2 separate regions of the Homo sapiens genome follow, and region 2 is linked to region 1. Evidence: fine-mapped expression QTL. A gene starts in region 1. The other region holds a variant in brackets. All regions are shown on one strand. Distances are from middle to middle.

What was found. PIP is the estimated chance that this variant, and not a neighbour inherited with it, causes the effect. A credible set is the group of variants that fine-mapping cannot tell apart.
Region 2: its variant is the best candidate, but not a certain one, in a credible set for the expression of ESR1 in whole blood (TOPMed, PIP 0.55).

The regions. Positions count from the first base shown.
Region 1 is chr6:151,805,443-151,809,831 of GRCh38, forward strand. It overlaps ESR1 (estrogen receptor 1), which reads left to right and starts at 2,240. Exons shown (of 8, transcript NM_000125.4): 1 at 2,240-2,922. The coding sequence starts at 2,471.
Region 2 is chr6:151,679,977-151,684,365 of GRCh38, forward strand. It overlaps a transcript of ESR1 not described here. Among named protein-coding and RNA genes, the nearest start is that of ESR1, 130 kb to the right of the region's middle. The variant G/A (reference allele first, on the strand shown) is at 1,817.

The sequences.
Region 1 (4,389 bases):
GTACTTTCCAGCCTCCAAGGGTAGGGGCAAAGGGGCTGGGGTTTCTCCTCCCCAGTACAGCTTTCTCTGGCTGTGCCACACTGCTCCCTGTGAGCAGACAGCAAGTCTCCCCTCACTCCCCACTGCCATTCATCCAGCGCTGTGCAGTAGCCCAGCTGCGTGTCTGCCGGGAGGGGCTGCCAAGTGCCCTGCCTACTGGCTGCTTCCCGAATCCCTGCCATTCCACGCACAAACACATCCACACACTCTCTCTGCCTAGTTCACACACTGAGCCACTCGCACATGCGAGCACATTCCTTCCTTCCTTCTCACTCTCTCGGCCCTTGACTTCTACAAGCCCATGGAACATTTCTGGAAAGACGTTCTTGATCCAGCAGGGTAGGCTTGTTTTGATTTCTCTCTCTGTAGCTTTAGCATTTTGAGAAAGCAACTTACCTTTCTGGCTAGTGTCTGTATCCTAGCAGGGAGATGAGGATTGCTGTTCTCCATGGGGGTATGTGTGTGTCTCCTTTTTCTTTCAGGACTTGTAGGATTCTTTGTGCCATTTGCATATAATTTGGCAGGTTCACATTTTTTAAGAGCCCTATGAAGTGCTTTTTGCATGTGTTTTAAAAAGGCATTTGAAAATTGAAAGTGTGATTTATGGAAATTAAATCATCTGTAAAAAATTGCTTTGGAAAGTAATGATTGCTGGCCATAAAGGGAAATATCTGCGATGCACCTAATGTGTTTTTAACCCTTTATTTGCTGACAATCTATAGTCATTAATGCTAAACTCGATTTTGGCTTCAGCTACATTTGCATATTGTCCAACAATGGTCTATTTTTGTAAGAATTAGATAAAATGTATACTTGATATAAAATAGTCAAAAATGTAACTCTTAGTAACAGTAAGCTTGGCATTTAGATAGACCATGAACACTTCGTCAGATACTCTGTTGGGTGTTTGGGATAGCAATTAAAACAAAGTATTGATAGTTGTATCAGAGTCTATTAGGCTGCAGCAAAGGAAGTTTATTCAAAAGTATAAACTATCCAAGATTATAGACGCATGATATACTTCACCTATTTTTTGTCTCCTTAATATGTATATATATATATATATATATATATATACACATATATGTGTGTGTGTATGTGCGTGTGCATGTTTAACTTTTAATTCAGTTAAAAACTTTTTTCTATTTGTTTTTCATCTGGATATTTGATTCTGCATATCCTAGCCCAAGTGAACCGAGAAGATCGAGTTGTAGGACTAAAGGATAGACATGCAGAAATGCATTTTAAAAATCTGTTAGCTGGACCAGACCGACAATGTAACATAATTGCCAAAGCTTTGGTTCGTGACCTGAGGTTATGTTTGGTATGAAAAGGTCACATTTTATATTCAGTTTTCTGAAGTTTTGGTTGCATAACCAACCTGTGGAAGGCATGAACACCCATGTGCGCCCTAACCAAAGGTTTTTCTGAATCATCCTTCACATGAGAATTCCTAATGGGACCAAGTACAGTACTGTGGTCCAACATAAACACACAAGTCAGGCTGAGAGAATCTCAGAAGGTTGTGGAAGGGTCTATCTACTTTGGGAGCATTTTGCAGAGGAAGAAACTGAGGTCCTGGCAGGTTGCATTCTCCTGATGGCAAAATGCAGCTCTTCCTATATGTATACCCTGAATCTCCGCCCCCTTCCCCTCAGATGCCCCCTGTCAGTTCCCCCAGCTGCTAAATATAGCTGTCTGTGGCTGGCTGCGTATGCAACCGCACACCCCATTCTATCTGCCCTATCTCGGTTACAGTGTAGTCCTCCCCAGGGTCATCCTATGTACACACTACGTATTTCTAGCCAACGAGGAGGGGGAATCAAACAGAAAGAGAGACAAACAGAGATATATCGGAGTCTGGCACGGGGCACATAAGGCAGCACATTAGAGAAAGCCGGCCCCTGGATCCGTCTTTCGCGTTTATTTTAAGCCCAGTCTTCCCTGGGCCACCTTTAGCAGATCCTCGTGCGCCCCCGCCCCCTGGCCGTGAAACTCAGCCTCTATCCAGCAGCGACGACAAGTAAAGTAAAGTTCAGGGAAGCTGCTCTTTGGGATCGCTCCAAATCGAGTTGTGCCTGGAGTGATGTTTAAGCCAATGTCAGGGCAAGGCAACAGTCCCTGGCCGTCCTCCAGCACCTTTGTAATGCATATGAGCTCGGGAGACCAGTACTTAAAGTTGGAGGCCCGGGAGCCCAGGAGCTGGCGGAGGGCGTTCGTCCTGGGACTGCACTTGCTCCCGTCGGGTCGCCCGGCTTCACCGGACCCGCAGGCTCCCGGGGCAGGGCCGGGGCCAGAGCTCGCGTGTCGGCGGGACATGCGCTGCGTCGCCTCTAACCTCGGGCTGTGCTCTTTTTCCAGGTGGCCCGCCGGTTTCTGAGCCTTCTGCCCTGCGGGGACACGGTCTGCACCCTGCCCGCGGCCACGGACCATGACCATGACCCTCCACACCAAAGCATCTGGGATGGCCCTACTGCATCAGATCCAAGGGAACGAGCTGGAGCCCCTGAACCGTCCGCAGCTCAAGATCCCCCTGGAGCGGCCCCTGGGCGAGGTGTACCTGGACAGCAGCAAGCCCGCCGTGTACAACTACCCCGAGGGCGCCGCCTACGAGTTCAACGCCGCGGCCGCCGCCAACGCGCAGGTCTACGGTCAGACCGGCCTCCCCTACGGCCCCGGGTCTGAGGCTGCGGCGTTCGGCTCCAACGGCCTGGGGGGTTTCCCCCCACTCAACAGCGTGTCTCCGAGCCCGCTGATGCTACTGCACCCGCCGCCGCAGCTGTCGCCTTTCCTGCAGCCCCACGGCCAGCAGGTGCCCTACTACCTGGAGAACGAGCCCAGCGGCTACACGGTGCGCGAGGCCGGCCCGCCGGCATTCTACAGGTACCCGCGCCCGCGCCGCCCGTCGGGGTGGCCGCCGCGCCCGGCAGGAGGGAGGGAGGGAGGGAGGGAGAAGGGAGAGCCTAGGGAGCTGCGGGAGCCGCGGGACGCGCGACCCGAGGGTGCGCGCAGGGAGCCCGGGGCGCGCGGCCCAGCCCGGGGGTTCTGCGTGCAGCCCGCGCTGCGTTCAGAGTCAAGTTCTCTCGCCGGGCAGCTGAAAAAAACGTACTCTCCACCCACTTACCGTCCGTGCGAGAGGCAGACCCGAAAGCCCGGGCTTCCTAACAAAACACACGTTGGAAAACCAGACAAAGCAGCAGTTATTTGTGGGGGAAAACACCTCCAGGCAAATAAACACGGGGCGCTTTGAGTCACTTGGGAAGGTCTCGCTCTTGGCATTTAAAGTTGGGGGTGTTTGGAGTTAGCAGAGCTCAGCAGAGTTTTATTTATCCTTTTAATGTTTTTGTTTAATGTGCTCCCCAAATTTCCTTTCATCTAGACTATTTGATTGGAAATATGTCAGCTATGATGATGACTTTCTGGGAAGCGATTCCTGTCACCCGCTTTCCCCTCCTCCCCACCCCACGTCCTGGGGCTTTAGAGAGCGATTGGGAGTTGAATGGGTCTGATTTCGGAGTTAGCTGGCTGAGTCCGCGCTGGAGCGGATTGCTGGCATGTGACTTCTGACAGCCGGAAATTTGTAGGTGTCCCGCGAGTTTAAAACAAGCCATATGGAAGCACAAGTGCTTAAAAATAATCTCCTGCCAGCCCAGTGACAAGCCTGTCCCACCCGGGGAGAATGCCCCGGAGTGGCGTGCGGGTCAGCCAGGGTCTGCGCCTCGCAGCCACTGTGGAAGGAGCGCGGCCGGTCCAGGACACAGGAGACCACTTTGTGACTTCAATGGCGAAGGTTGTGTGTCCTCATTTTAATTTTTTTCCCTACAAGAATTGTTCTTTCTCCCTCTCCTCTCCCTCCCATTTTCTCTTGCCCAGTTTCTCCTTTTGTTTTTTGTTTTTTGTTTTCCTGATGGGCCTGCAGAGGGATTAGGTGGGCGCTTCTGGTGAACACCTTCCTAGGTGGCCACAGGACAGGTGTACCCCGGACTGGGTTTGGAAGCTTCAGGGCGCCACATGGCTGGGTCCTGAATTAGGCATTTCCCAACTGTACACTGGTATCCGGACTGGTGTCCCTATATCTTTCTGCCTTGTAAGCCGTGGACCAGTTTTTGTTCAGTATTCTGTTTCCAGGGATATTTATAGCAGAAGGAAGGGGACTAAAGTGCAGTTTGGCCCCAGAGGATACTGAAGGGCAGATTCTGGGGGTATTCAGTGTGCATCTTCAGCCGCCTTGGAGAAATTTAGAGCATCCCACAGCCACGCAGATCCAAGCTGTCTTTACTCAAAAGACAAACAATGAACAAAACTTTTAAAGGTTGGCATATTTCAAATTAATTTTACTTGTTTTAATTT
Region 2 (4,389 bases), 130 kb before region 1:
AATCATCGCCTTAGCACTGTCACCATCTGACTTTCTTTCTATATATATTTTATTTATTGGTTAGCTCGGCTGCTTCAACAGATACCATAAACTGGGTGGCTTAAAATCAGACATTTATTTCCCACAGTTCTGGAGGGTGGAAATCTGAGATCAGGGTGCCAGCATGGTCTGGTTCTGGTGAGGGCCTCTTCCAGGTGCAGACAGCCACCTTGCTTTTTTTCTTTTCTCTTTTTTTTTTTTTTTTTGAGTTGGAGTCTCGCTCTGTCACCCAGGCTGGAATGCAGTGGTGCCATCTCGACTCATTGCAATCTCCACCTTCCAGGTTCAAGTGAGTCTCCTGCCTCAGCCTCCCGAGTAGCTGGGACTACAGGTGCACACCACCACGCCCAGCTAATTTTTATATTTTTAGTAGAGACGGGGTTTTGCCATGTTGGCCAGGCTGGTCTTGAACTCCTGACCTCAAGTGATCCACCTACCTCGACCTCCCAAAATGCTGGGGGGTCGTGAGCCACCATGCCCGGCCAGATGGCCACCTTCTCCCTGTGTCCTCATGTAGCAGAAAGAGATCAAAGAGCTCTTTTGTTTCTTTTATGAGAGCACTAATCCCATCACAAGGCCCTGACCTCACAACCTAATCACCTTCCAAAGGCCCCACTTCCTGTCGCCATCATATTGGGGGTTTGGATTTCAGCATATGGATTTTGGGGGGACACAAATCTTTCAGTCCGTAATAGTTGGCCTCCTCCCTTGTTCCACTAGAATATAAGCTTCAGGAGGTCAGGGATCTTTGTCTCTTTTGTTTACAGCTATGTTCCTAACACCTACAACAATGCCTGGCACATGGTAGGTGCTCAGGAGATAATTATTGGATGAAAAAAAATGAACCGGTCTCCTCCTTAACCCCTGAAATCCTGTTCGAGTCGCTGGGTTTGCCTTGCTCCACTGGGATGAAGTCCTGGCTTGGTGTCCTTGTCTCCCAGGGGTAGACGCCCCGTCTCTGGGAGGACTTGAGGCTCTCCTGGCCTGCTGCTTGGCCTCCTTACCTGTTCTGCCCACTCAGAGCCCTGCCAGCTGCCTGGGATGGCTGCCGGGCACGTCCTTGTTCCTGCTCAGTCAACCAGTTGGGGCCTTGGTTTGGACCTTCACTTATTCTTCTGTGAACCTACCTCTCTGGTCCCCAGCTCGTCTTCTGAAATTTTGATGTGTTGGTCAAGCCCAGTCTTGTTTGCACATCCCTGTGAATGATTCTTAATTATATTTCTGGCTGGCTCTGTGCAGTAGACCATAGAAATAACGATTGTTTCTGGGGTTGCGCTGGAGTGTGAACAGGTGGGGAAAATGCCTCAGGACGATTGGACCGAGGAGACTCTGAGATGACTGATGAAAGCGACAGCAAGAGCTTTCCACGCTCCTGATGGCAGGAGGGGACGGCGGTGCTGAGGGGTGGGGGAGGCTCAGGGGGAGCTGTTGAGGGTCCCGTGCTCGTCAATTCTCTAGCTTCTCAGGCGCCTTGATCTTGTCATTTAGAAGCCTCTGGAAGCACAGGGACTGTGGAAACTGGAAGCTGTTCTTGGACTATTTCGCAACACTTTTCTCCAGGAAAAAGAAAAAATAAAAAAAAGCCTCATTCTCTTCGTCCCCAATGTTACATAATCGAACATTTCCCGTCCTGGTTGAAATGAATATCCTCTTTGCCTGAATAAATAATGCACAGATTCTTCGGGACAGGCTGCTTCCTCCAGGCCGCCGCTTCCAAGGGATCCGGTCGCTTTGTGGGTTTAGTGGTGGCCCACAGCTGGACGCGGGGTCCAGCTTG[G/A]GGTGGGGGAGGCGGTGCTTTCTGCCAAAATGTCTTTTAAACGTCTCAACAAGTAGCAAACAAGGCCCCACCTGCGACAGTTGTAGTGATTCCGGAAGACCTGCTCACCACGAGGTGCTGGGGTCGCTTGCAGCTGGCAGTCTCCGGTGGCTGCAGTTTAAATAAATCTCCTAAGTGCAGAATCACCACACAGGGCGCGGAGAAACTGAAAAGTTAAAACATCTGGAGTTACAAACACTCACAGGCCTATCAGCTGTCTGAGTCCCCGTAGGAAAACTGTTTATCGGATGCTTTAGTATTCAACCTTTTATTTCCTAGCACAGGTTTTTTGATTTTCACATGGAGTGTTTGATTATTTTCCCATGCCCAAGTCACTGTTTTCATAGCCTGTTGTTTAATCTGTGTGCACCTTTGTTTTCACTCTATTTCCTTTGCTTTCCTATATGAGAAAAATAAATGGCACCATTGAATTGCACGGTAGAGGCTGATGCTATTCCAGGTGCTCAGGTTGGCTTTCCCATCTTTCGTTTCCTCCTGTAGGAAGTTTTTTTTGGTATAAAGGGAAGGACAGAATTGGATCTCCCTGGAGGGAGTTTCATGTGTTTCTTATTCTGAGCTGCCGGGAGCTGGTTCACAGCACAACTTGATAATTGCTGAGTAGACCTAAAGTTTTGAAAATCAAGATCTCTTTGGAGTTTTACAAGTAAAATTTCAAAAATGAGAAATGACTATCCCAATTTATTTTAGAAGAAAGGTGCAGCTTGTAAACTTTCATGAATTTGGTAAAAGGGGGCTAATTTGAAAAGGAAAACTAATAGGCAATATTTACAAATTGTGAAAAATATCAGAATAGTATACGTGGAAGAGTTATTAGACATTCCATTTGCAGTGGTAAACCCATTCCTTTGATTCTGAATCTTGTTTAGGTTTCCTTAAGAATTTGATGAAGTTTTCAGACTCTTCCTTCAGAAAAATGCACATATTCTTATGTACCTAAATGTTTGGATATGATTTCAGGGGATTCCAAATCCCCTGGGGACCCCCCATGTGGATGTTTGTGATGCAGAATGGGGTAAGAAAACCAGGAGAGCCTACAAAAATTTTATGAAATAGAAATATGAACATACAGTACTGAGCCAAAATTTAGTTGTGAGGAAAATGATGTTAAATGCATTCATTTTCTAAATGATGACAGAAAATTAGACTCATATTACTATCCGGGTGAAGCATATTTTGTACTTATGGTGACCTAGTGATCCAAATGCCTGCTCTTTGGTCTTATCCTCTTATCTTCCTTATGTCAATACTGGGCTGCTTAAATATGTACTGTCTCCGATGTCATTATCTAGTTTTGTTCTTTGTTTTCTATGTTTTATCTTTTACTTCTTGTTCCTATTTCAAATACTTTGACGGTATTGGGACTTGGGGACATGTCCTTTCCAGTACAGATTTTGGTATTGTAGAGGGAGGTTTACAAGCCCAGGTGGGTGTACTTGGGGACTGAGGCTGCTCAGTAGCCCTGTAAATGGTCAGAGTCTGCTGTTTCTGTTGCTTGGAGAGCAAGGTGAATGCAGGTCTCTTTGGATATTGGGGATGATAGAGGGATGTGGATTGGAGAGGAACAGGACTTCCTGCCCCCTCAATTTAAATGGAGATTCATTTGATCAAAAAAAAAAAAAAAAGCACATATATTCACCAGGCCCTGTGTGAACTACCACCTTGGATGTAGGTGGAGTAAGCCATATTCCCAGGTAGCCTGCAATCAACTGCAATCCATTGGTGGTAGGAGGCATGGGAGATACAGAAGTAACTCAGGACTAGATTGAATTGGCCACTTATCTAAGAGTGTTATCAAGTGTTCTGTAAATGTGTGAATTCTGATTAGTTATCAGGTTGTCATACATTTTTTTTTCTTTTTTTTTTTGAGATAGAGTCTCACTCTGTCGCCCAGGCTAGAGTGCAGAGGTGCTATCTCAGGTCACTGAAACCTCCACCTCCCAGGTTCAAGCAATTCTCTCACCTCAGCCTCCTAAGTAGCTGGGATTACAAGCATGTGCCACCACGTCTGGCTATTTTTTTTTTTTTTTTTTTTGTAGTTTTAGTAGAGATGGGATTTCACCATGTGGCCAGGCTGGTTTCGAACTCCTGAGCTCAACTCATCAGCCCACCCCTGCCTCAAAAAGTGCTGGGATTACAGGCGTGAGCCACCACACCTGGCTACGTGTCATACAATTCATTTGTCTCCCTTCCTAGACACAAGCTCCTCAGGATCATATCTGTTCTTCCTTGCTGGCACAGAGGAGATGCTTCAGTAGTGCTTGTTGCTAGAGGAGAAGGGTACAAGTGGCATGTGGAGAGATTCAGAGAAGGGTAGAATAGGATGATGTTGGGCCATCAGGAAGGTCTCCATGGAGAAGGTGTGCTTTGAGATGAACACTGAGGAAGTGGTGGGATCACACCTGACCTAGATAGAGAAGGGGCTGAAATCCAAGCATAGGATGGTGGGAGCAGGGAAAGAGAGGTTGACTGAAGTTGAAGGCTGGAGAGGTTGGCTGGAGACGGGTGATCAGGGA